Linked DNA regions of Homo sapiens: regions 1, 3, 4 and 5 are each linked to region 2. Evidence: fine-mapped expression QTL. A gene starts in region 2. Each other region holds a variant in brackets. All regions are shown on one strand. Distances are from middle to middle.

Region 1 (5,100 bases), 46 kb after region 2:
CTAACAAACGGGAAGGGCGTCGTGCGGCACTCAGCCGGAGGCTGATGTTGCTGGCATCATTGCCAGTGTTTATTATTATTGCCGCCATTATTCACTTCATGAAGGCCTGGTAAGGGCTCAATAGGTGGCAGCTGTTCCTGCTGCCCTCGTTGTCAGCAGAGCAAGGGCTGCGGGAATGGGGATCTGGGCACGGTGCTAAGATCCTCATCTGCTTGTTTATCCAGCCTCTGGTGAGCAGAGCCCAGCCCTGGGATTCAGGGGCCCTGTGTTTTAGTGTGGGCTCTGCCGCTGATTGCTGTGTGGCTTCGGATAAGTTACCCAGACTCTCTGATCCACAGGCGAGCTCTTGGGCCATGCCCAGTGCAGGCAGTCAGGGATTCTGACTTGTTCTCTCTAGAGAGTGGAGGTGGGAGGAGTGAGAAGGAAGTGAATGCAGTTTGCCCTTTCCTGTGGTGTGTGGGTGCTGAGCTGGGTGCACTTGGCAGGCCATACCTGTGCCAGGGAGGCCCCTGAGGCTCTGAGTGCTGTCACGCTCAAGCAGAAGACATTGGAGGGGAAGGGGCTCACTTGGCCTGGCTGGGAGCCAGAGGTGGGGGCTGTGACAGTGGCAGTGGCTGGCCAGACAACTCCCCAGAGATGTTGGTCAGGGGAACTGTGACTTCCTTCTTGTCCTCCTTGCTCTCACCCTGAAAGCCCCAAATTGTTGGTGCGCACATACCCTCATGTGTGAGACACAGGTGGCGAGACGGGTTCCTAGGGGACAGTGTGGTTCTCTGTGAACTGTCTGCTTGCTGAATTAGAACTTCCTGATTCTCTGGCTTGGGGTTCTCTTGCGATGGGGCAGAGGGAGGAAGAGCAGCTGGAGCCTGGGACAGGGAGAGGTGACCTTTCTCTCCCCTGTTGAGAAGGGAATGGAGGAGTCCAGGCTACCCCTCTGGAAAGGGATTATGGAAAGACACTTGGGCTAGAATCTCTGAAGCACACGCTGGTCACTGGCTCTGCATTCTGGGGTAGCTAATTACGTGGATTGCAGCTGGACTTGCAGAAAAGATGCAGGAAGCGCCCTCATTTCCTATCAGGGTACTGGGATGCAGCCTCTGAGCTGGTGTATCTGTATTCTAGCAAAGCATTTGCCAACATCTCATGTGGGAAACCTGGAGAGGACAGGAAGATGTGGGTCCAATTCATGCATTTATACCTTATTATAAGGGGCTATTTCACACCTTAAAGAGCATGGCAAGAGGTCTGCACAGCACCCCAAGGGGCGGGCACAGGAGCCCGAAAAGTTACCCTGGAGATGTAGTCTAGTCTCAAGTATCTGGATGACATGTGTCCTTCGAGAGAGGGATTTGATTTGTTCCTGTGGTCCTAGCTGGGACTTGGGTAGCTGAGAGAGGAGGAGGATGTGAACTAATACAAGTGGGTAGAAGTCATTTGAGCAGAACTTAAATTGTATCAGAGCCTCTCAACTCCGCAACATGCTATTGTGTGAGGTACTGACTTCCCCATCGCAGGGAGCATTTAAGCAGAGCCTAAAAAAGCATGACTCTTACATTTGGATGATTTGCTGGACGCAAAGGTCTCTCCTAACTCTGACTCTGTGAAAATTCACACTAAAAGAGAAGTCAAAGCTCAGCATTTGGGTGGGACGTGAGTAGAGCCATGCAGAGGACAGCAGGGTCATGGGGAGGCCCTGGGCAGCTTGCCGAGGCTAAGATCCCGGGTCCCTGGAGCTGCACAGATCAAGGTCTGGTCATGTCTCTGCTGCTTTCTATCTATGTGATCTTGGGAAGTTGCTCCAACTCTGAGCCTCATTTTTCTCTTCTGAGAAATGGGGAGGAGGGAGACAGGGAAGACAGGGCTGGCTTCCTCGGCATTCAACCTATGCAGTCACACAGGATAATCTGCTGTTGCTGTATTGAAATTCTTTTTTTTTTCTTTTCTTTTTGAGATAGAGTCTTGCTCTGTTGCCCAGGCTGGAGTGCAGTGGGATGATCTCGGCCCACTGCAACCTCCACTTTCTGGGCTCAGGTGATCCTCCTGCCTCAGCCTCCCAAGTAGCTGGGACTACAGGCACACACCACCAGGCCCAGCTAATTTTTGTGTTTTTAGTAGAGATGGGGTTTCACCATGTTGGCCAGACTGAACTCGAACTCCTGACCTCAAGTGATCTGCCCATTTCGGCCTCCCAAAGTGTTGGGATTACACGTGTGAGCCACCACGCCCAGCTGAAATTCTTAATAATTTTTAAACAAGGGGCCCTGCATTTTTGCTTTGCACTAGGTGTAAATTATGCAGCTGGCCCTGGGCAGGACTCTTTATGGCATGTGACAGTGACTCAACTGAAAGTAGCCAGAGCCAGCAGAAGGCTCAGCTGGATCCCAAAGGCTGCTGCTGTCCCTATTCACCCTTCAGCCCTACCCTCCTCTGTTGGCTCCCTTCTCGGGCAGGCTGTCCCCAGTGGAGCCTGAGGGTAGCCCAGGTCCTCATCCTACCACA[T/C]TGATGGAAAGAGGGCCGGGTATGTGAGCATGGGTCTCAAGCCCATCTCTGAACCACTCGCCGTGCCTGTGATGTGGATGGCACTGAGTGGCAGCCCAGGTCTTTTGCCTGCTTCTGGCATCGAGGGAGTGGGGCCTCCTCAGCTCCATGGAGAAATAGAAGGGTGGTTACATCCAAGGAGTGGGTTTCTGCAGGGCAGGCAGAAACAATGGAGCGGTCCCTGGGGGGATGGAGGGAGCTCATGAATGTCTTCTCCTGCTACCTCCCTGTCCTTTTTGTCTCAGTAGCTACCTGGTTGCCAGGGTGACCTCCCTGCACTCCCAGCACAGGCCTCCTGAGCATCAGCTCCAAGCTGAACCAGCCCCTGTGGCCATGGTCCCCGTGGCCCAGGTGTGTCCCTCAACCACATTCTGGACTGAAAGATGTTGTGGTGTTTCCATGGAAACCACCCATCTAGGTGGAAACCACCCAGCTTCCATCACCTTCTCATTTCAGGGAGGCTGGGAGAGAAACAGGGAAGTCCAGGCTGCTGTGACAACCACGCTGGGGTTTAAACAGAGCCTCAGTGCAACATGTTGTGAGGAAGCTGGGTGGGTGGGGAAGGATGTGGGAGAGGCAGCTTTCCGCACAGATGCTTCTAGAGAGCCCCTCCTTTCCACACCGTGGGGATCACCCACCCACTGGGGTTGAGAGGTGGACCCGAGATGTCAGATCACCTGGCAGACAGCCCCAGCTATGTGACTCAGGCAAACCACTTAGCTTTTCTGGGCCCTGGTTAAAACTGGGTATAGCCGTGTGGTTTAAATGCCAATAAAGCTTAATAGGTAAAAACCTGGGTTCTGAAATCAGCCAAGCCTGTGTGCAAACCTCACTTCTTCCGCATGTTGGCTGTGTGACTTTGGGCAAGTTAATTAACCTCTCTGGGTTTGTTTTCTGCATCTCTATAATGAGGGAATGGGGTGAATACCTAGGCCATAGGTCTGCTGTGAAGATTCAGTTGAGATAATACATTTAAAGTGCTTACCACAGCACCAGGTACATAACAAACATTTGATAAAAGTTAGCCACTATTAGTGTTGGGATTAATTACTGACAGGAAAGCTTTGTAAATTGCAGAACTCTGTATAAGGGCTTTTTTTTTTTTTTTTTAAATATCATGCTGAGAGCTTTATTGAGAGAAGGGCAGGGAGCGTCATCAGAGGCTGGTTTCCCAGCATTAATTTTTTTTTTTTTTTTTTTTTTTTTTTGAGATGGAGTCTGGCTCTGTCGCCCAGGCTGGAGTGCAGTGGCGTGATCTCGGCTCACTGCAACCTCCACCTCTCGGGTTCAAGCGATTCTTCTGTCTCAGTCTCGCGAGTAGCTGGGACTACAGGCACCTGCCATTCACACCCAGCTAATTTTTGGTATTTTTTTTTAGTAGAGATGGAGTTTCACCATGTTAGCCAGGATGGTCTCGATCTCCTGAGCTCGTAATCTGCCCACCTTGGCCTCCCAAAGTGCTGGAATTACATACGTGAGCCACCATGGCCAGCCCCAGCATTAATTTAACCAAGGGAGCTGGGTGAGGAGCCAGGGCTGCAGGTCCATCTGCAGGATATGGGTTCTCTGAGCACAGCGTTCATTCAAGGACTGCCCATGGGGAGCTGCTGGAAGCTCCACCAACAGGGTTCCCTGGGAGTCAGGCTCTGAAACCCCACCTGGAAGTACCTGTCTCATTTCTCCCAATTCTTCCTTCTCAGGAACCGAGGTGGGAAGGTGTGTGGCCTTCTCCTTGGCATCCCTGCCTTCTAGGGTCCCTCGCCCCCACTGCCTTGACCAGTCCAACCATGCATTTGCCCTGAAAGGTCTCTGGGCAAGGTCCATGTGAGAGGCTAGGTGGAGCCAGGCAGGGGCTGGCTCTCGGAGGCTCCCCTCCCACCCAGGCCTGCTTATCGCCGAGGGAGGCCCTGCCCTCAGCGGGCTCTGGGTTTGCCTCCTTTTGCACAACTGACTTATTTAGAAACCCCTTCTCTGCCTGCTTTGTAAATCAGTGTTTTCTCTGTGGGGTTAGCTGAGAGCAGGTGCTGCTCTCCACCACAAGAAGGAACCCTTAATTCCTGAGCAGGGTGAGGACCAGCATAGGCAAGATGTAGATTTGGGCCAGGCGAGGTGTCTCAGGCCTGTAATCCCAGCACATTGGGAGGCTGGGCTGGGTGGATCACTTGAGGTCAGGAGTTCGAGACCAGCCCGGGCAACATGGCGAGACCCTGTCCCTGCTAAAAATACAAAAATTAGCCGGGCATGGTGACTCATGCCTGTAGCCCCAGCTACCTGGGAGGCTGAAGTGAGAGGATTGCTTAACCCCAGGAGGCAGAAGTTGCAGTGAACTGAGATCCTGCCACTGCCCTCTAGCCTGGGTGACAGGGAGACCCTGTCTCAAAAAAACAAAACAAAGCAAAACAAAAAAAAAAAAGTGAGATGTTTTTGGAGCTCTGGGGCAAGTAGCCAGGTCCCAGAAAGGCAACTGACCTCACACTCCGGCTGGCTGGCACTGCTGGCTTGGGGCTTGGGAAGGGGTGAGGGAGGATCTTTTCTGTTTTGTTTTTTGTTGTTGTTGTTTTT
Region 2 (5,100 bases):
TGCTGGAGCCCTATTAACTTCAGTAGGGATGGTACTAGGTTCAAGAGGCTGAAGGAGAGACCAGAGCCAGCAACTGGGACATGGGGTTTTATTGGGAAACTTACACACAGGGACGGCCGGTGGCAGTGGGCTGGACAGGAGAACTGTACAGTCCCATGGCAGGCTGGGCAGGAGAGCCACAACCGCTTACAAAAAGCATGCAGTTTATACATCACTCTCACTTAGCACCCTCCCCCTAACAACCCCCACCTGATAACCTTCATTTGGCCCCAAACAAAGAGCTTTGAACCCCTGTACACCCTGCATTCCACAGGATGGGCCGGGGTTCAAATGTTCCTCACAGATAAGGAATGAATCTCCAGGTTGGTCATTCCCGGATTCCTTAGCTCAAAACTCCAAACACACATTGGGGTGCATCTGCCATACAGGACCATTCTCAGGGTATGCTTAAGTCAAGTTATTGCTGTCAGGAGCATCTGCCATACACCATCACAAACACCCCCAGCTCGGAGGGAGCGGGGTGTGGAGTAGGGTGGAATAGGAGGAATTTTATGCCCATTTTGCATGGGCTGGGTAGGGTAGGGATCTGAAACCCAGCCCAAGACAGAATGGCACAGTGGTTCTCAAAGTGTGGTCCCCGGACCAGCATCCACATCATCTAGGAGCTTGTTAGGATCTTAACCACTTGCAGGATAGAGGGTGTCTCTCTGCGGGTATGACACACTGCTGGGTTTAAAGGATTCTCCAGCCTCACTTTTCTGACTTGGTGTGGGAATGCTATGAAGGAGACTTTTTGCTGAAAAGAGAACATTTTCTGAGCATGTACGGCATTCAAGCGGTGGGCCAAATACTTTATGAATGCTGTCACATGTAATCTTCAACAGCTACCATCAAGATCGGTATGATTGTTATGGCTCATTTTATTATTATTCCCTGTTTAAGGGCTCATCCCAGAGGTTAAGTATCTTGCCTTGTCCTGGGTTTAAAACGCAACCAGGAAGCTACCTAGGTCTGTGTGATTCTCAGACCACCCTGACTTCTTTACAGTTTGCTCAACAGTGGTTCATGCTTGAATGTGATTCAGAATCACCTGGAGGCCTTATTAAAACCAATTGTCCCACAGTTTTCCATTCAGTAAGTTGGGATGGGGCTTCAAAATACGCACTCCTAACAAGTTCCCAGATGATGTTGCTCCTGGTTCAAGGACCACGCTGTGAGAACTACAGTGCTGGGCTGGGATCCAGCTCCCGCCCTTACTCCACTCGTACAAAGCGCTCATAATCATACCCTCCCACAACGGTGTGTTGTGAGAGGACATTGTGATAATGGAAGTGAAAGAGCTTTGTCAGCTGCACAGGTGAATGCCCCTGGTCATTAACCAGGTAATCTGCCTGAGGCTAGTCCTCTGGAGCCTGGGAGGGCAGAGGGCTGGGACGCAGGGTGGGCACCGCAGCCACCTAGAGAGCTCTTGCAGCCCACCTCAATTTTGGGCCACTTTTTCTTCAGGGAGAAAGCCAGCTTTGAGGGCTTAGGCCCACAGCCCCTCCTGCCACTATTCTCATCAACCCACACCTCCTCCCTCACCTCAGGCAGCTGCTGGGCACTGCCCCAGCACTGGTTGTTCTGGGCTACTTCCCCAGGGGCCAGTCCAGGCAAGCTGGGGCAGCTCAAGCCTGTGACTCAGGACCTGAGGCTGGATCCCGCTCACGCCCGCCTCCATGAGATTCAGAGCCCTCGACTTCCCTTCTCTGAGCCTTAAACTGCGCATTAGTAAAATAGGCGCAACGAGAGTACCCATGAGTTGTGGGAATTCAAGGGCTAGAACTGTATTCAGCGCTTGGCATAGAGCCTGGCCCCTGGCAAGGATTCAATCAATGGTAGTCAGTATTTTCAAAAAGTTCCTGGGCCCAGGCCGCCTCCTGATAGAGGCCCCGACTTAGGACACAAACCGCTCCCACGCCGTTCCCCGGCGGCACCCGGATACACCCGCCCTGGAATGCCAGCGTGGGGGCCCCAGGGCTACCCGCCCGAGATGAGAGGGGCAGGGCAGGGCAGGATTAGGAAGGCGCTGAGCCCAGGCTGGTGCGGGGAGGGGCGTGGCCTCACCCTACTAGGGCCGGGGGATGGGGTGGGCTCGAAGGAGAAAGTGAAGGAGGCGGGGGCGCTGGGAGGGCCCGGGAGGAGACCGGGAGGACGAGGTAGGCGGGAGCTGGGCGGGACCGTTAGGCAGCGCCGTGAGTGGACAGGGCTGGAGCGGGGCGGGCTTAATCCCCAGTGTAACCTGGGGGCGGGGCTGCCGGGATAGAGGAGAGACTCCGTAGCGGGGCGGGGCCTCAGCTCCAGCTGGGCCCGGGGGCGAGGCTGGTTGGGGTACGGCCATAGTGGGCGGGGCCTGGCCGGCGGGAGCGCACCGCCTTCCCAAAGGGCTCGGGGGCGGGGCCGGCGGAGGGGGCGTGTCTTCTGGGGGCGGGGCCTGCCGAGTCCGCGGCGTTCCCCGGCTGCAGCCGGGAGGGGGCCGAGGAGTGACTGAGCCCCGGGCTGTGCAGTCCGACGCCGACTGAGGCACGAGCGGGTGACGCTGGGCCTGCAGCGCGGAGCAGAAAGCAGAACCCGCAGGTGAGCAAGGGGGCAGCGGGCCGGGGTAGCCTGCCGGACAACCATAGGCAAAGTTAGTTTTAGCCCCCGCTTCTGCGGTCCGGCTCGGACAACTTTCCTCGGAACTAGTGACAGGTCGGGGCAGCTGGTGGGTGAAAAGGAGCTTTAGCCACCAGTCCTGAACCCCCAGTTCTCACACTCGGCCGTGCACAGCTGCGTGATCCTGGGTCCGTCCCTCTACCTGGCTCTGGACCTCCCGGGTTCCAGCAGGAGGAAGTGAACCAGGTGAATTCCACGCTCCCGTTGCCCTTTCTCACTTAAAACGCCGGAAGGTGAGAGCTGGCAGGTGAGAGCAGGCTGCAGGTCGCCACAGGTGTTCCCATCGCGTTGCCCTCTGCAGTTTCTCTCCCTGCAAAATGGGACTGAGAGAAGCGAATTGCTTTAAAGAGTGCACTGTTTCCTCGGTTGGGGCTCGAACCCACCAACCCTGGGGAAGAGGAGGCCAAAGCAGGGAGGTTCCATTTCCCGCCTCACCTGCTTCCCACCAATTCTAACAGTTCAACTGAGCCGGACCCCCTAAGACTTCAAGTTGGAAACTCAGTGGGGCTTTTCCAGGTGAGCTGGCCTGAGCAGGAGGTTGGAAACTGGGGAACAGTTCTTACACTGGTGAGTGGGGAAGAGAAGGGAAAACCCCACCAATCCTTGGGCCCAGGGTCAAGCCCAGGGCCCCAGGGGCCCTTGAAGCATACCCGGGGTTAATTTCTTGGCTGACGGGTTCTGTTCCTGGAGGTGGTGGGTGCTCTGTGCTGGGCCCCAGTAGCGGGGCAGCATAGTTCTGTGGTCAAGGCTTGGGCTTTGGGATCAAACTGATTTGGATTCCATTCCCCCTCCAAACTTCAGTTTCCTCACCTGTAAAATGGGGATAATGACAATATCCAATAGCAGGAGCAAGCACTAAATAGAATAATGTGTATACACTACTTAGCAAGGTGCCAGGAAACCAGTGAGACCTCCCTCTGTGACAGCTGCTTTGATGCGGGTGGGCAGGTGATGGGCTTGCTTCCTATGGGGAATGAGCCTTTTTTTTTTCTTGGAGAGATGGGGTTGGCTACAGCCCCTCCTGACCTTGTGAAAGCCAGAAATTGCCACCTGCCACCAACATCACTCTATTTGAGGGATGAGGACTGTGTCATCTGGAACAAAGAGTGGCTGAGTTTTCTGTAATGTTGCTTGAGGTTGGTAAGTGTTGAGTTAAATAAGTCTAAAAATGTTTACTGAGCACCTACTATATGCTAGAGAGAGCTAGAGGATACAGAGGTGAACTAGCCAGGCCTGAGTTGCTGACAATGAGGGCTCCCCCATCCCTACCATGTCCCTGTAGAGAGGATCAGTCACACCCAGGGCTTATAACCAGATGAGATTTCATGGGTCTGTTCTGCCCTGGTGGCTGGAATCCAGCTATACCATTGCACACTTGGCTTGGGATGGGGGCGAGGGGCAATGTGGGCACCCGATATCTAAGCAGGGTTGGACACTGAAGGACGCTGAAGGTGCTGCATTATATTGGCTCCCTGCATCTTCTGGGAGATAAGCTGTACAGTATGGAACAAACTGGAAAGTGCTGTGGGACAGAGACGGACTGGCGGCTGCGCTGTGTGCAGGAGACTGTGTGTGTATGTAGGGCAGGGGGAGGTGTTCAGAAGAGTGAGACACTTGAGAAGCCAGGGCAGGGGGTGGGGGTAAGGAGGCTTCCTGGAGGGGGTGAGACTTGAATAGGACTTTCTCTCTGGGCTCCTGGTCCTGGTTTGGCTTGGATCAACATGGGACCACAGTCTCTTCAAGCACTGAAGTGGCATAAATTGGAGTTTGGTATGGTGGGGAGGGAGAGGGTCTGGTAGGTGGTGCCTGAGGTGGGGAGGAGGAGACGTTCATTTCAACAGAGCCTACCTAGTGAGCCTTAATGGAAAGCCCTCCCCACCACCACCCCCACTTCCTGCTCGATGAATGACAAGCGACCACATAAGGCCTGCACCCTCAGGTTGCTTACCATCCGGGAAGGGGCTTACACAAGAATACCAGGGACTCTGATGGAAGATAAATGAAAAAAGGATTAGAGGGATCTTCAGGGCCTTACAGACTGGGAAGATTTCGGCAGCCAGAATGAAGATAGTGTCTTGAGGAGAGGAAAATGCCTAGGCAGAGGCAGGGAGGTCAACCTGTCCTGAGAATTCTCGAGAAACCTCTAGGTTGCTCATTCTGGCTGAAGTTTGGGAACGTGTGGGGATATGCAGTGGGAATAGTAGGTGGGATCAGCTTACGGAGGGCCTTGAATGACAGGATAAGAACTTTGGATCTGATTTGCAGAAAGTGGGAGCCACTGAAGGTTTCTGAGGAGAGGAGTGACACAACAGAGCAGCACTTTAGGAAAGTCAGTCTGTACCAGATGTGCTGGGGTGGAGGATCCAGCGGTCAAGGGATAATGAACCAATGGCTGCAGTGACTGGG
Region 3 (5,100 bases), 30 kb after region 2:
GAAGAAGGAGTGAAGCCCGGGCCTCCGGCTTTCCTTTCCCTTTGCTCTGTGGCCTGCCCTTCCCCCTCCATAAGGCAGGGAAACACAAGTGGGCCTGGTGCCGTCCCCTCCACCCCCCCAGCCCAGCTCTGCCCATGCAGCTGTCCCAGGCCAGCTGTCCAGGCCCCAGCTGCCCGGCGGTGCTGGCTCCCTTTGCCCCAAAGGGTCTGAAGGCTGGCGGCTGGCACTCCTGGATTTTCTGGCCTCTGAGTCAGGGTGAGAACAGTCAGCTTCCAGCTTCCCTCTTCCTCCCGGGGCCCTCCCCTCACCTGGGGTCTTTTGGAGTGGAGGGGGCACAGCATGCCCAAGCATGGTTTGTGTCATTTCAGAAGCACAACTTGTGTCATCGGGGAGACTGTGAAAACTTGGAAACAACCTGTGTGTCCAATCTTAGAGTATCAGTTAAATGCTTTTATGGGATGGCCACATCTGAGACTTTAACCTGGGGCCACTGGGGTTCCTGAATGGGTTTCAGAGGTCCATGAACTCCCAGAAATTATTAGCATCACAAAATGCTAACTACACATGAATTTTTTGGGGGACTCTGTGAGCCCCCAAATGTTAATAAGTACTAATAGGATGGAATCCTATGCAACATGTGAAACTATGAAGAGCATTTTATCAACATATAGAGAGTGAAGATTGTAGAATGAAAAAAACAGGCTAGAAAACACTATACAGAATGAGCCCAATTTTGATTAGAACCATTTGTTATACACACACACACACACACACACGAATAATAGCTACTAAAACGATGACAGTTTTTAATCTCTGGAGTGAGATACATTTTGCTTGATTTCTGTTTTTCTGTATTTGTTGGGTGTTCTACAATGCATGTTTATTCCCTTTGTAATAAGAAGCTGGGACGCTCAGCCTATTTTCTGAGAAGCCAAAATTCCCCTTCTCGCCTTGGCAGACCCCACAACTCCCAGCCCCTAGTCCCAGAGGGAGTCTGTGGAACAAGCACAGGTCTCACCTCTGGGTCTCTGTCAATGGATCACTAACTTCCCGGCCCCCTGACTTCAAACAGAGTCCATCTGTGCAAGTTCCAGAGCCTGGGTCATGGAGGTGAGGGGTGAGGGTCTCCCTCTGTCATTTTGCTCCCACCAGCCCCAGCCCCAGCCCCAGCCCCAGTGCAGTGGCTGATCCGGATCCTAACTGCCAAGCATCAAGTGCCTGGCACACAAGACTGCTCGTGGGACCTCATTTCCTAGCTGTGTGGCTTTGGGCTAGTTGTCTAACCTCTCTGGGCCTCTGCATCCTCTAAGGCAGGGACAGGGTTAGTACCCACCTCCTGGGGTTGCTGCAAGGGCAGACTGAGCTGATCCCCTCACTGGCCTGCCTGCCTTCTCTCTTCCAGGAAGCTCCAGGACTGGCGGGATGGGCTCAGCCTGTATCAAAGTCACCAAATACTTTCTCTTCCTCTTCAACTTGATCTTCTTTGTAAGTATGTCCCATGCCGTCCTGACCACCTCCGAAAAGATTCTCCTTCCAGGGGCATCCCAGCCTGAGCCTTTCCAGAGCCGACCGGGCCGGGGATTGGGGGGATTTGGTGGGTAGGGACTGAGGACGAACTATCTCCAACGGAACCTAGTTGGGGTGGTGAGGAGATTCCCTGCCATTCCCAGCTGGTCCTTTGACCAAGCACTGGATTCCTGACCCGGCCTTCCCCTCTCCTAGATCACCCAAAGCCTGGGCTGGCGGTGGGTATGGGGAAGGAGAGGAGAGCCCCTGGGCATCCCCCTAACTCAACAGCAGGAGCTGCTAGAAGAAGCCTCTTAGCATCTCTCTAGTCCTGTCCTGGCCCCCACCCTGCCCATGTGAAGAATTGACCTGTGACAGTTCCAGGCCCCAGTTGCCCCTATCACACCCCCGTCCCTGTCGTGGGAAGGTATCTCCCTGAGCTCTCATAGGGAGAGCAAGAGGGCGCCAGGCGTGGGGCCAGTGAAGGGCACATACCTCCTTCCCCAGACCCACCCCAGCAGATGGGCCATCCGGATGTCAGCTCTGTGGACATTGACTGCTGGTTTTCCTGGGGCCTCGGTTTTCCTCTCTGGCCTGGCATGGACTGCCTCTTGCCTTGGAGTTGCTGGGATGGTGGGGTGTGTGTGTGAGTGAGAGTGTGTTGTTGGGGGGCAGTGCCCTGGAGAGGACTTCATAGCCTCAGAGTAGTGTTGGGAGCGCTGGCTTCCCTGTGTTGACGGTTTAACCCTATAGTGTTAAAAAAAAATCAGGTTGTACAGTAGGATGTTTCTTATGATCCAAAGTTTTAAATGTACGTATTCATTAAAAAGTGAGTATTTTTGAGAGGAGAAGAAAATACCTCAATGTTAATGTTGGGATTCTTGGGAATTTTGATTTTATTCTTTATGCATCTCTGTATTTTCCCAATTTTCTACGGTAGATATTAATTACTTGTTTGGGGAACAGGGGGTTTACATTACAAGTTACATAGTTTATGGGAAGTTTGGGAAATAAACAAGAATCATTCTAAATTCCCCTTCTGGCCAGACATGGTAGGTCTTGCCTGTAATCCCAGTGCTTTGGGAGGCCAAGGCAGGAGGATTGTTTGAGTCCAGGAGTTCTAGACCAGCTTGGGCAACATAGCAAGACCCTGTTTCTCTACAAAAAAAAAAAAAAAAAAAAAAAGAATTTTAAAAATTCCCCCTTCACAGCTTTAACCCAATGCACAGACATGTACAATGTGTTCCTGGCACCCGCACACAAGTGTTCATACACGCATGCACACACACAGGAAGCCCTGGCGCTGCCTGCCTTGCTTTTTTTCCACCCTGGCCCCGGCCCTAGCTCCCTCCTGGAGGACCCTGTGAGGCCCCACTGTGGCTCTGGCCCTCTGCTCATGGCAGCCGGGCCTGGAACCCACCCCAGGCCGGGCTTGGGCTTCCCCAGCTTGGC[G/A]GTCAGGTCTCTCCTGGCTGCCCTAGGACTTTGGGAAGCAGCTGCCTGTGCAGGCAAAGCCAAGCTTTTCCTGGCAAGCACTTGGTGTCTGGGCGGAGACCCAGCATAAAGGCCAATGGGCCAGGACTCGGGGGAAGGGGTGCGTGGGCACTGTAGCTCTATCCCTGGGGGCTTTAGGGACTAGAGAGAGGAGCCTGGGCTCTGGCCTAGGAGATCACGGAGCTTGGGTTTCAGTGATAAAGAAACTTTCCTTCATGCAGTGGGGGTTGGGGAGACCCTCATAGAGAAAGGGAGTGGGGTTGGTGGTTTCAGCCAGGGTGGCCCTTTCTGTCCTGCTCGCAAGTTGCCCTGTGGAACCAGGGACTGGAAAAGCTGCTCTCTGGCCAGGGCTTGGCCTCCTTTTGGCTCCTCCAGGGGCTGGCAGGAGTCAGGTGTTAACTGTCTGTGTACTGGGGCCTAGGATGACCCATCAGGATGGTGGAGGGGGGAGGGGCAGCTTGTATGACAGGAGGGTGAGAGTGAAAGAGGAGGGCTGGAGGAGGCAGAACGGGCTTGTTTACTCCTCAGCAAATGTGTATCTGACACCTCAGCATCTTCAGATGTTCAGGGCGGAAGAGCCCTGATTGCTATACTTCCGGAGCTTGTGTCCTAGGGAGCAGTGGGCTTCCATCAAATAACTACTCAAATGCATGAAAAATTGCAGTTGTTGGGGGTACTAGGAACAGATAGGCTCTTCGGAAAGCAGATGAGGCTCTTGGCCTGGTCATGGAGGTCAGCAAAGGCTTCCTGGGGTTCTGGGTGTGGCTTTGGAGAGGGGGATCCTGGCAGCAGGGGCAGCCGGTGGAGGCAGAGTGCACCTCCCCAGGCATAGACCCGGCCAGCCTGCCTCTTTGTTTTATGCACATTGGGAGGGGTTTCGTGGTTGGATTTGTGGTTTGGAAAAATCCCCGTGGCTGCTATGTGTGCTCGCGCCTGCGTGCATGTGCACCTGTATGTCTTTGCCTGTACTCCCTCTGGACTCCAGACTCCCCAGCGCATTGCCACTTTTCTCAGGTCCAAAGGAATGCAGAGGCACTGGTGCTGTGGCTATGCTGGGGAAGGACGCTCACTGCTCTGAGGGTCCTGGCTCCTGATGGGTCCCATCTGGGGATTGGGGAAGGGCTGGGGGAGTGATTAACATGGGGCCTGCCCCACAGCTCCAGTCTTGGTTCACAGAGAAAAAGGGGGTGCCATGGTGCCTTGCCCATTCTGGTAGGCTGCCCAGCCTCCTTTCTGGCTCTGCCACAGCCCCGTGGCTAATCCAGCCACATCTGACCATCAGGCTGGGGTCATCAGACCTACAGAGGGACTGAATGGGTAGCCCCGGGGACTTTGCTCTCTGGGTTCCTCTTGGCAAGCTGAGGAGCCAGCTGAGTAGTGTGGGGTTTTGATCTACTTGGGATTATGTGTGCCAAGAGGGGATTTTCTGTCCTGCCTCCCATTCCCTTTTGGTAGGGGCTGTCCTCCCTCCTGTCCCACCCTGTGAATGTGGGAGGGAATGGGGCAGGGGCTCTGCCCACATGGGTCTGAGATGCAGAGGGAGCAGACGTGGGCCTGAGCACTGGCCCCTGCCTCGCTGTGCTGTGGGGTGGTTGTGGGCTGGGTAGGGTTGCAGGTCTTGGGGAACCAAACTCCCAGGTCCTGGAAAGCCCCCATTTCCCCCAGCTGTGCAAATTAAGGTGGACCCACCTTCCAGCAGACTCTTCTCCTCCCCAGTGTCTCAGGGGCTTTTCTGTCCCGAGACTGGCTTTCTGGGTGAAGGCCCAGGATGGATCCAAAATATCCCTATAGCTCACCTGCCACCATCTGGCTTCCAGTCCCTGATGGATAAAATCAAGGCCTCATATAAAATTCCGTGTGTATAAAATGAGGTCAATTACAAGGCCCGTCTCACTGGGAGAGAGGAGAGGACAGATAATACCTCAGTGATGATTCTGGTGGGAGACACTGGGGGGCAGACGTGGGGTGGTCACCGTGCCTTTGTGGTTGTAGTCATCAGTCACAGTGGTCTTTAAGGTAGCAAGTACAAGGGTAAAGGGAGAGAGGCAACCCCCTACTGAGCCACCTGGGCCCTGGGGCAAAAGGAAACATTGATAATACTGA
Region 4 (5,100 bases), 54 kb after region 2:
GCTAGGAAGGAAGCGGTCCAGGAACTGACCCCTGCTGTGACCGTGGCTATCCCATTGAATCCTCCCAGGAACCCCCAGCATTGCGGGGATTCACACACAGAGACCTCCTTTAGCACACAGAGCCCGGAAAGGCTTTCTTCTCTCTAGAACTAGAGCATTTTCTCCTTTAAAATGGCAGAATTGACCAGCTAGCCAAGGTGGCTCACACCTGTAATCCCAGCACTTTGGGAGGCCGAGGCGGGCGGATCACTTGAGGTCAGGAGGTCAAGACCAGCCTGGCCAACATGGTGAAACCCCGTCTCTACTAAAAATACAAACATTAGCCGGGCGTGATGGCGAGTGCCTGTAATCCCAGCTACTCAGGAGGCTGAAGCAGGAGAATCGTTTGAACCCTGGAGGTGGAGGTTGCAGTGAGCCAAGATCACGCTGCTGCACTCCAGCCTGGGTGACTGAGCAAGACTCTGTCTCAGAAAAAAAAAAAAAAAAAAAAAAGGCGGAATTGACCCCGTCTCCTTTTTCACTTTTCACTTTTTTTCCTTTTCACCAGGAAGCTCAGAGGCAAATCTCAACTCCTGCACTAAAGTTGAACGGCCTTTCCTAAGCTTATTGTGCTCCCCACACCTATGCTTGGTACTTTGCCTGCCTCATCCCATTTAGTCCTTGTGATAGCCCTGTGAGTTGGGGATTTTAATTATCCCCATTTACAGATGAGGAAACTGAGGCTAGTTCCTTGATGGAGGTTGCTCAGCTGGTAGGCGGCAGGGCTGGGATTGTAACCCAGTAGCCTGACTTTAAACCCTGCACTGTGAACTGTCTGCCGTCCATTCTCCTTGTGCCCTGCACACCTGCGCTCCTTCAACTTGAACTTCCTTCCTACTCTGCTTTGTATTTTTGCTGGTCCTGGTTTTGATTTTTCTGCTGTACTTGTAGTTTATGATGGTTCGGCTGGGACCAGGGGCCTGGAAGTGGCATATCTCAGTCTCTGTCCTGGGGAGGTCCTCCCTCTGCCAGGAGGGCAGCCTGCCTAGGGTGAGCCGTGAGCACAAGCAGTCTGTCCCCTGCCTTGCCCAGGTGAAGTGCTGCGGCTGGGTCAGCTTCTACAACTGGACAGACAACGCTGAGCTCATGAATCGCCCTGAGGTCACCTACCCCTGTTCCTGCGAAGTCAAGGGGGAAGAGGACAACAGCCTTTCTGTGAGGAAGGGCTTCTGCGAGGCCCCCGGCAACAGGACCCAGAGTGGCAACCACCCTGAGGACTGGCCTGTGTACCAGGAGGTGTGCGGGGGGCTGCGGATCGGGGGCGGGGCTCCGAGGGCGTTGGGGGCCATCTGGGCTACTGCTCAGCAATTCCTTCCTGCATTTAGTTCCTTCCCTTAATTCATCTGTCATTTGTACCTTCATCTACTTCTTTGTTAATGTATTTATTCAAGGAACAGGCAGAGCCCTCTGTAGGGGCTTCCGGGCTGGGACTGGGGGGCTCTCGGTGGTTCTGCATGGCGGGGTGGGATGGTGCAGAGCGGGGTGATGTGACCGCATTCTGCCCTTGCAGGGCTGCATGGAGAAGGTGCAGGCGTGGCTGCAGGAGAACCTGGGCATCATCCTCGGCGTGGGCGTGGGTGTGGCCATCATCGAGGTCTGAGCCCCCTCCCCCATCCCTTCTCCATCCCAGGTCCTCCTGGGTTGTCTCTGTTCTGCTGATCTCCTTGGGGAGGTGGTGGCCAAGGGGGCCAGCACCCCATCAGCTTCCAGAGGCCCTCTGGTCTGAGCACTGTCTGGCTGTGTGACCTCAGACAAGGCACTGCCCCGCTCTGGGCCTCCCTCTGCTGCCTGCATCACAGGGTGGTTGTGAGGCTCAAGTTGAGGATCCACTTAATCCCCATGTAAACCTGGATGGTGAGGCTGGGGCGTCTGAGGCCGGGACACCCAGCCTCCCTCTGACTCTCCGCCTCTCCCCACAGCTCCTGGGGATGGTCCTGTCCATCTGCTTGTGCCGGCACGTCCATTCCGAAGACTACAGCAAGGTCCCCAAGTACTGAGGCAGCTGCTATCCCCATCTCCCTGCCTGGCCCCCAACCTCAGGGCTCCCAGGGGTCTCCCTGGCTCCCTCCTCCAGGCCTGCCTCCCACTTCACTGCGAAGACCCTCTTGCCCATCCTGACTGAAAGTAGGGGGCTTTCTGGGGCCTAGCGATCTCTCCTGGCCTATCCGCTGCCAGCCTTGAGCCCTGGCTGTTCTGTGGTTCCTCTGCTCACCGCCCATCAGGGTTCTCTTAGCAACTCAGAGAAAAATGCTCCCCACAGCGTCCCTGGCGCAGGTGGGCTGGACTTCTACCTGCCCTCAAGGGTGTGTATATTGTATAGGGGCAACTGTATGAAAAATTGGGGAGGAGGGGGCCGGGCGCGGTGGCTCACGCCTGTAATCCCAGCACTTTGGGAGGCCGAGGCGGGTGGATCACGAGGTCAGGAGATCGAGACCATCCTGGCTAACATGGTGAAACCCC[G/A]TCTCTACTAAAAATACAAAAAAAATTTAGCCGGGCGCGGTGGCGGGCACCTGTAGTCCCAGCTACTTGGGAGGCTGAGGCAGGAGAATGGTGTGAACCCGGGAGCGGAGGTTGCAGTGAGCTGAGATCGTGCTACTGCACTCCAGCCTGGGGGACAGAAAGAGACTCCGTCTCAAAAAAAAAAAAAAAAAAAAAAAAAATTGGGGAGGGAAGGGCGTTAGATAAGGCACTCTGGGCTGTCAGGAGACTGCCTACTGGGTGGGTCAACTTATTTCCCACTATGACATTTATATCTTTATTTTTCACAATTATATTGAAGGCAGTGGGAGAGGGGAGAGGGTGGGTTTTACCTGATATTAAGGGGTGGCACCCCTTCCCCAGGCCTGATGCAGGTCCATCTAGACAGCTCAGATTAGCCTAGGCCATGCCCTAGGGACACGGCCTAGGGGAGCTGGGCTGGAGGGGGTCTGCCTGGGTAAGGGGATCTGGCTTGGCCCTGAGCTGCTTAGGGACAGGTGAGTCCTTGGGGGCATGGCACAGAGCTGGTCCTGTATTCTCCAGGGTCCGGAGCTGGCCAGGGGCGGGGAGGAGGAGGATGGCTTCTCCTGGGAGAAGGTGGGCTGGCCTTTCTTGGCAAGCGGTCCTCTGGCCCCTGGGGAGTGGGGTGGGTGAGGCTGTGCCTTGTAGGGGGAGAGGGGAGGGGGCTTTGTGTGCACCATTCTGTAAAACACACTCAAGATTCTAAGACTATTAAAGAGGATTTATAACAGTCTAGTCTGGAATGGTAGGGATGCTGCTTCCTGGGGCAGGGGAGGACCCAGGGCAGAGGGTGTGAGCAGAGTGGCTGGGTCTGCTGGAGACTGCTGGACCCCTCACTGCTCTGCCCTCCCCGCAGGCATCTGCTTCTGCAGCCTGAACCTTAGGACCGTGATGGGCCAGGCTCTGATGGGCCTGCCTGCATGCCGGGGTGCCTGGAGTTTGATTTGGTGCTAAGAGAGGTATAGATTGTACCTCTCAATTCCTGCTTCTGAAACTAGGGTATGGGTGCCCCCAGAAGCTGCACAAAAGTGGGCTGGTGATGGGGGACAGGGAAGCCACAGGATAAACTTGGCATCGCTTTCTAGAGCATCCGTTTCTGCAAAGATTTGTGGAAGGAAACATTTTCATACTAAAGAAATGTGATGGAGTAAGATGTGCAGAATTCAGGGGACTTTTTAAGATGAAATGTGAGACTTTGGGAGGCTGAGGCAGGTGGATCACTTGAGGTCAGGAGTTCGAGTCCAACCTGGCCAACATGGTGAAACCCCATCTCTCCAAAAAATACAGAAATTAGCCGAGTGTGGTGGTGCACGCCTGTAATGCCAGCTACTCAGGAGGCTGAGAAAGGAGAATTGCTTGAACCCGGGGGATGGAGGTTGCAGTGAGCCAAGATTGTGCCACTGCACTTCAGCCTGGGCAACAGAGCGAGAATCTGTCAAAAAAGAAGAAAGGAAGAAAAAGAAAACGACAGAGAGAGAGAGAGAAAAAGAAAAAGAAGCTTGCTCTTACTTGTGCACGGCTCTGACGACTGAGCCCCAGCATGCCCCTTGCCCGGCGTCATGAAGTCCAGAGGGCACTTGCCCCACCTTCTCTCATTTCTGGAGCCAGTGGGGAGGGGAACTCTTGCCTCCCTGCAGTGGGGCCAGGCGGGGCGGCGGCTAGAGTGGTGTTTCAGCAGGGACCACCAGGCGGCGCTGCAGCCTCAGCCTAGGAGCCCGGCAGAGCCCAAAGGTTCCGTGGTTACTCCCAGTTTCGCCAACGCGGGGCCTGCCAGCGTCCCACTCCAGTGGAAGCACTTGTGAAAATGCAGATTCCAAGGCTCAAGGATTCTGGCGCTGCAGATCTAGGGTGGGGACAAGGAATCTGCCTATTTGCACCCCTTTGCGTTGATTCCGGAAGATTTTCAGACCTGGAGTAATGTCTGTCCCAAGCCACGTGATGACCTCTCAGCGAATGTGGCAGCTGAGGAGGTGTCAGCGGTGGGGTCGGCTGTGGGTCCCTCTGTGGCCTTGGTCGCCTCCCTCTGGGATGGGGGCAGGAGAGGAAAATGTCGATGGTTCCACCTGGCCTGACTTCCCTGGCCCCCCACAGCTTCCACCCTCAGGAAGGGTAGCAGAGAGCTGTTGGGTGTCTTTTCATAAATGCTTTCTCACTGGGAGCAAGGGGACCTGAGTTTGAGTCCAGCTGCATCTCCATCTTCCTGTGCGACACGGGGCCTGGCAGGCTGAGGGTGGGCTCAAAGCTGTTTGCAAAATAGAGGACTGAGAAAACGTCAGAAGTTAGCGAAGGGGTGGGCTGCTTCCTCTGACACGTCCATCCTGCCCAGAGCTCACAGCTGGAAGGGGCCAGAGCCAGGATTTGAACCCCACGTATCTGACTTCAAAGACCATCCTCCTGGCTCCACTGGCTCCTGCCCTTCCAGATTTCCCAGAACAGCCCCAGGACGTGTGTAGTGTGAGGCTCTGACCCTCGCTTTTGTGAAATCTGGTCACTGTGAGCTCTGAGCCTGCTGGGTTCCTCATTTCAACCTCCTGGGGAGCACCCAGTTTCAGCAACCCACTT
Region 5 (5,100 bases), 27 kb before region 2:
TGGGGACAGATTAAATGAGCTAATACAAAAAAGTGCTTAGAATAGGGACTGGATTGTCAGTCCTCAATACATGTTAGCTTTCATAATAAATGCTGTTGTGGTCATTATTATTATTTTCCTTGGCCAGTGAGTTGGAGAAGGAGTTTGGTTCAGGAGGGACATGATGTAGTGAGGACAGGCAGAGATGGGAGTGGGAGATGGACACCACCTGTGTCTGGCCCCGAGCTGGACACAGGGAGCAAGTGATGAGGCCTGCAGGAAAAGCTCAGCCAGAGAATGTTATGATGCAGAAGAGGGAGGAGGGGCAGCCCACAAGGACTCAGGAAAGCTCCGGGATGACCTGTAATCCCAGCACTTTGGGAGACCAAGGTAGGCAGATCACTTGAGGTCAGGAGTTCGAAACCAGCCTGGCCAACATGGTGAAACCCCGTCTCTACCAAAAACGCACAAAATTAGCCAGGCATGGTGGCGGGTGCCTGTAGTCCCAGCTACTCAGGAGGCTGAGGCAGGAGAATTGCTTGAGCCCGAGAGGCAGAAGTTGCAGTGAGCCGAGGTCATGCCACTGCACTCCAGCCTGGGCAACAAGAGCAAGACTCCGTCTCAAAAAAAAAAAAAAAAAAAAGAGATAGAGAGAGAAAAGAAAGGATCTAGCAATATGTATGTAAGGTGCTGGGTGCTTATACATTTTATCTCATTTAATATTCACGTGTTGAGGACATTTAATATTGTTGATGATTATATTCCTATCATCAACGACTGTTATTATCCCTGTTAGGGATGAAGAGACTGAGGGTCACAAAGGGGAAGTAATTTTCTCAAGGTCACGCAGCTGGGAGGTGGTGGAGACAGGAGTAGAACCGTCACCCACCCTGCGGGTTACCATCCGCGGGTGGGAAGGGTGGGTGCGCTGGGCTGAGAACTGGGGCAGGTCTCCTCCGGGCTCTGCCTCTGTGTTGCTGTGTGATCTCGACTCGGAGCTTCTTGCCCCTCTTCTGTGGAATGAAAGGGGAGCGAAGGAGGAGGGTGTCTGAGGGGCGAGAGATGAGCCTGGAAGAGAAGCAAGGGCGGGCAGGGGGGGCTGTGACCTCAGCAGGCGGGGTGAGGTCCCAGCTCAGGAGCATCCTGGGAGCTCTGGTGGACCTGGCCTGGAGCTAATTAGCTGCTGGGAGGGGAAGTGCAAGGGCGGCGACCTTGTGGGGCGGGCCAGCCTCCCGCTGGCCCTGACACTAAGCCCAGCACCCACGAACATCTGGCCCGCTTTCATGCAGGCCTGGAGAGAGGCTCTGTCTGAGGGTCAGAGGTGGGGTGCAGATTGTCAGGGAGGACCTAGCTCTGCCCTGGGAGTTATGGGACCTTGGACCAGTTTCCCCATCCATCCCGGTGATAGATGAAGCCGGCAGCCCCCTCCGTGGGCCCCCTTCCAAACCTCACATTCCCTGGGCCTGTGAGTGTGGGGAGAGGTCAGGGAGATAGGACATCCCTGGAGGCCTAGGGATGTGGGGCGAGGCCTGTGGGAGGACAGCTGAGGTGAACCGGGAAGAGGACTGCAGTGTCATGAAGACTTGTGCTTAGAAAGAGCCTTGTAGGTCCGGGTGCGGTGGCTCACGCCTATAATCCCAGCACTTTGGGAGGCCAAGGCGGGTGGATCACCAGGTCAGGAGTTCGAGACCAGCCTGACCAACATGGAGAAACCCCATCTCCACTAAAAATACAAAAAATCCATAGCCGGGTGTGGTGGCGCATCCCTGTAGTCCCAGCTACTCAGGAGGCTGAGGCAGGAGAATTGCTTGAACTCAGGAGGCGGAGGTTGCAGTAAGCCGAGATCACGCTACTGCACTCCAGCCTGGGTGACCGAGTGAGACTCCCTCTCAAAAAAAGAGCCTTGGAGAGCTAGCCCATGGTTTGAGCCACTTAGGATCACCACAGTGGAGGGGTGGCCAAGGGAGTGAGGTCCTTGTCCTGTCATCCTAGGCTCCAACGGCTTTCTTTGTCTGCCTCCGTGTCTGTCTTCCCCACTGGGTGTGGCAGAGTCAGGCCTCTACTGCTAAGCCTGAAAATGCCCGACTCAGGCCAGCCCCATTTGACAGAGAGAAAGGCCCAGAGAGGGGAAGGGACTTGCTTGAGCCACAGCCAAGGAGGCTGAGGGGACTGCGGTGACAGAGGAGCGCCACCTCCATCTCCCTATCCATGTAACTCCAGCGCGTCTGCCTCTGAGGAAAAGAGACCTGCAGCCTACCCGGATGTGCTCATGCCAGCGCAGAAGAGTGTGTCCAAGGTGTGGTCTCCCTGGACCACTGGCTCTCCTGGCATCTTCCGTAGGAACCTACGCAGCTCCATGTGTTCTTCACTCCTGGTTTCTCCCTTCTCAGAATTCCAGGCTGCTGAGTTTTTCATTTCGCCGTCCCTCAGAGAGGCAGAATCCGTGTGTTGGGGAAGTCTGGAGATGCCCCTGGACTTCCCTGGGAGGTGCAACTTAAAAACAAAGAAACAAAACCGCAAATCCAACGCCTATCAACTGTCAGGTGTGGCCTGACAACATCCCGATGTCCCGTCGTAGCAGGATTGCCCCCGCTTTGGAGGGGAGGAAACCAAGGCTCAGAGAGGAAATGGGCGCTCCTGGTGTCCCCCGCTGGGAGTAGAACTCAAGCCTGGAGGCTCCAAGCAGCCTGTGGCCTGCTCTGGTGAGGTTTTTCGCACCTCTCCCAGGGCCTCCTTCCTCCCCGACGCAGAACAACTCGGATCTGCTGGTCCCACGGCGTCCTCAGGTCTCATCGGACCGTCAGTGGGCCTGGACAGCAGTGAGCAGGGCCCAGACGGCCGTTTCAGAGACAAGGGCGAC[A/G]CCTGCTGGAGATAAGTGAGCACGACATGCTAAGGCCAGGGGCGCATTCACTGCCTGGCTTCCTTTCTCCCTTGATGGGTGTTTATTGAAGGCCTGCTAGATGCAGCATCTCCAAGGTGTCAGAGACACTGAATGAAACCTGGTCTTTACCCCACAAGAGATTCCCAGCCAAATATAGAAGGTGCATAGCAATAATTGCAATGTAAAGTATGAAAACCAATGGTTTTCACTTTTTCCCCGCTTTTAATCAGTGGAAATAAATTCCTGTGTGAAAATGTAGTTAATAGGCCAGGTGCAGTGACTCACACCTGTAATCCCGACACTTTGGGAGGCCAAGGCAGAAGGATTGCTGGAGCTCAGGAGTTTGAGACCAGCCTGGCAACACAGCGAAACTGCGTCTCGACCAAAAATACAAAAGTTGGCGGAGTGTGGTGGCATGCACTTATGGTCCCAGCTACTCCAGAGGCTGAGGTGGGAGGATTGTTTGAGCCTTGGAGGTCAAAGCTGCAGTGAGCTGAGATTGCGCCACTGCACCCCAGCCTGGGTGACAGAGTGAGACCCTGTCACCAAGAAAACCAAAAGCAAAATCAAAAAAAGTAATTGACAATAGTAGCCAACACTTAGCGAGCACTTACTGTGTGCTAGGCATGGTCCTGAGCGCCTTATTTGAATGAACTCATTTATTCCTCCCAACAACCCTTAGGAGGCAGGTACAACATTAGCTTCGCTTTACAGATGAGGAGACTAATGATCAAAGAATGCGAGTAACCTGGCCAGGGTCATGAAGCTTGAAAGATGCAGAGTCAGGTTTTGAATGCAGGCCGCCTGGCTTTGAAGCCTTGACCTTCATCTCAAGGTTATGGGACTGCCTCTCTGTACACCTGGTACAAGTAAGGCTTCTCTGGCAGTAGGGGTTGGGGGGATGTGAAGTTAGGAACCACACTTGCTCTGCCCATCCCCCACCTCCTCTGGATTCCTAAGGAACCATCAAAAGCTGCCGACCCCAGTGTGGAAATCAGTGCATGCATGACATCGATAGGTCTTAAGCAGGGAAGAGGGAAAATTCTTTTTGAAGGAGAATTTGTATCATTTTAATGATTTTTATGTACAGAAAATGAAAGTGTACATTTAACCCAGTTAAGTGGCAAGTTCTTTAACCTTTGCCTTTTCCAACTTGGCAATGCAAGCCATAGATTTGGGACCCAGGATATTGCCTCCCCAGTGACGACGGATATCATCATATCTGTCGTTGTAATTAGTCCTGACAGCTTCCACCAGCTTCATCAAAACTCCTTTGTCTTCTGAGTTAACCTGTGTGAAGGCAACAGTGGTGCAGGTCTTCCTGTGGACTGGACGTTCCAGTCTTGCCTTCCCCTTGATAATGCAATCAGAGACCCACATTTTACAATGCAGGGCAGGCAGGAAGACAACAAGCTCGATGGGATCCTCGTCATGTCAAGTGCTACTCAAAATGGTTAGGCCCATTGTCTCCAAGCTACCTGCTGAGAGGTGATCGGCCTAGCATGCACACTCTTCTCTGCGGGAAGCAGCAGGCTGGCAACCAAACGTCTGTTCACATGCAGTCATCACTGGCTGAGCCTTCTTGTTCTCCACCAAGGGGTAACGGTGTTGACTCCTGCTTGAAGGACAGGTAGTCTCTTAGTGAGGATGTCCCCTTTGCTGTCAGCTTTCTTCTCAGCCTGGGCCAACAGCCTCTGCTTCTACTCTTGCTTTGTCTCTGGTCTGTATTTGTGGGTCAGCTTAGGCAGCTGAGTAGCTGGTGGTCCAGGTCCTGGGTGAACTGGTTAATCACAGGGGGCACTTTCAGCCACTTATAGAGGATGGCTCTCTGCCGCTGCAACCTGATATAGCAGGGCCATTTCACAAAGCGGCTGAGGTCACTTTTGGGCTGGATGTCCAGTGCCAAAATTCTTAGGCCTTTTCTTAACAGAGGGGATTCACCACTTTCTTGGTCTCCTGCTTCTCCATGACAGCAGGGGCCGGGGCCACTTTCTTCCCCCTGCGCTTCTTTCCTCTTGGCATCTTGGGAAGGTGGAGGAGCAGAAGAAAATAGATTTATGTGTTGCAATGGTTACTCTAGGGGTGGAGCAAGGAACTCAAACCAGAAGCTGTGATCAGATTTGGGAGGTGAACTGGGGAGGGAGTAGAGGGCACAAGAGCAGAGGAGGAAGGATGATCTGTGTTCACTGAGGAGATCACGTGGTCATAAGCTTGATTTTTAACTTACTTGGAGTGAGGTA

Evidence for each region.
Region 1: its variant is fine-mapped to the expression of CD82 in whole blood (INTERVAL, PIP 0.96).
Region 3: its variant is fine-mapped to the expression of CD82 in anterior cingulate cortex (GTEx, PIP above 0.99). The same link has a PIP of 0.9 or more in cerebral cortex and prefrontal cortex.
Region 4: its variant is fine-mapped to the expression of CD82 in whole blood (TOPMed, PIP above 0.99).
Region 5: its variant is fine-mapped to the expression of CD82 in whole blood (INTERVAL, PIP 0.94).

What each region holds. Positions count from the first base shown.
Region 1 is chr11:44,608,905-44,614,004 of GRCh38, forward strand. The region is part of intron 6 of CD82 (CD82 molecule); the gene reads left to right. Among named protein-coding and RNA genes, the nearest start is that of CD82-AS1, 6.1 kb to the left of the region's middle. RefSeq lists enhancers at 1-496, 500-669 and silencers at 3,132-3,211, 3,282-3,331. The variant T/C (reference allele first, on the strand shown) is at 2,500.
Region 2 is chr11:44,563,121-44,568,220 of GRCh38, forward strand. It overlaps CD82 (CD82 molecule), which reads left to right and starts at 2,543. Exons shown (of 10, transcript NM_002231.4): 1 at 2,543-2,616. RefSeq lists a silencer at 2,042-2,641 and enhancers at 2,556-3,056, 3,562-3,631.
Region 3 is chr11:44,593,241-44,598,340 of GRCh38, forward strand. It overlaps CD82 (CD82 molecule), which reads left to right. Exons shown (of 10, transcript NM_002231.4): 3 at 1,403-1,485. The coding sequence starts at 1,423. Among named protein-coding and RNA genes, the nearest start is that of CD82-AS1, 9.5 kb to the right of the region's middle. RefSeq lists enhancers at 2,983-3,561, 3,562-4,141, 3,565-3,804. The variant G/A (reference allele first, on the strand shown) is at 2,959.
Region 4 is chr11:44,617,091-44,622,190 of GRCh38, forward strand. CD82 (CD82 molecule) reads left to right here. Exons shown (of 10, transcript NM_002231.4): 8 at 1,072-1,275; 9 at 1,550-1,633; 10 at 1,959-3,268. The coding sequence ends at 2,036. Among named protein-coding and RNA genes, the nearest start is that of CD82-AS1, 14 kb to the left of the region's middle. The variant G/A (reference allele first, on the strand shown) is at 2,500.
Region 5 is chr11:44,535,812-44,540,911 of GRCh38, forward strand. It overlaps the pseudogene RPL7AP79. Among named protein-coding and RNA genes, the nearest start is that of CD82, 27 kb to the right of the region's middle. RefSeq lists enhancers at 1-135, 3,984-4,590 and a silencer at 2,814-2,873. The variant A/G (reference allele first, on the strand shown) is at 2,840.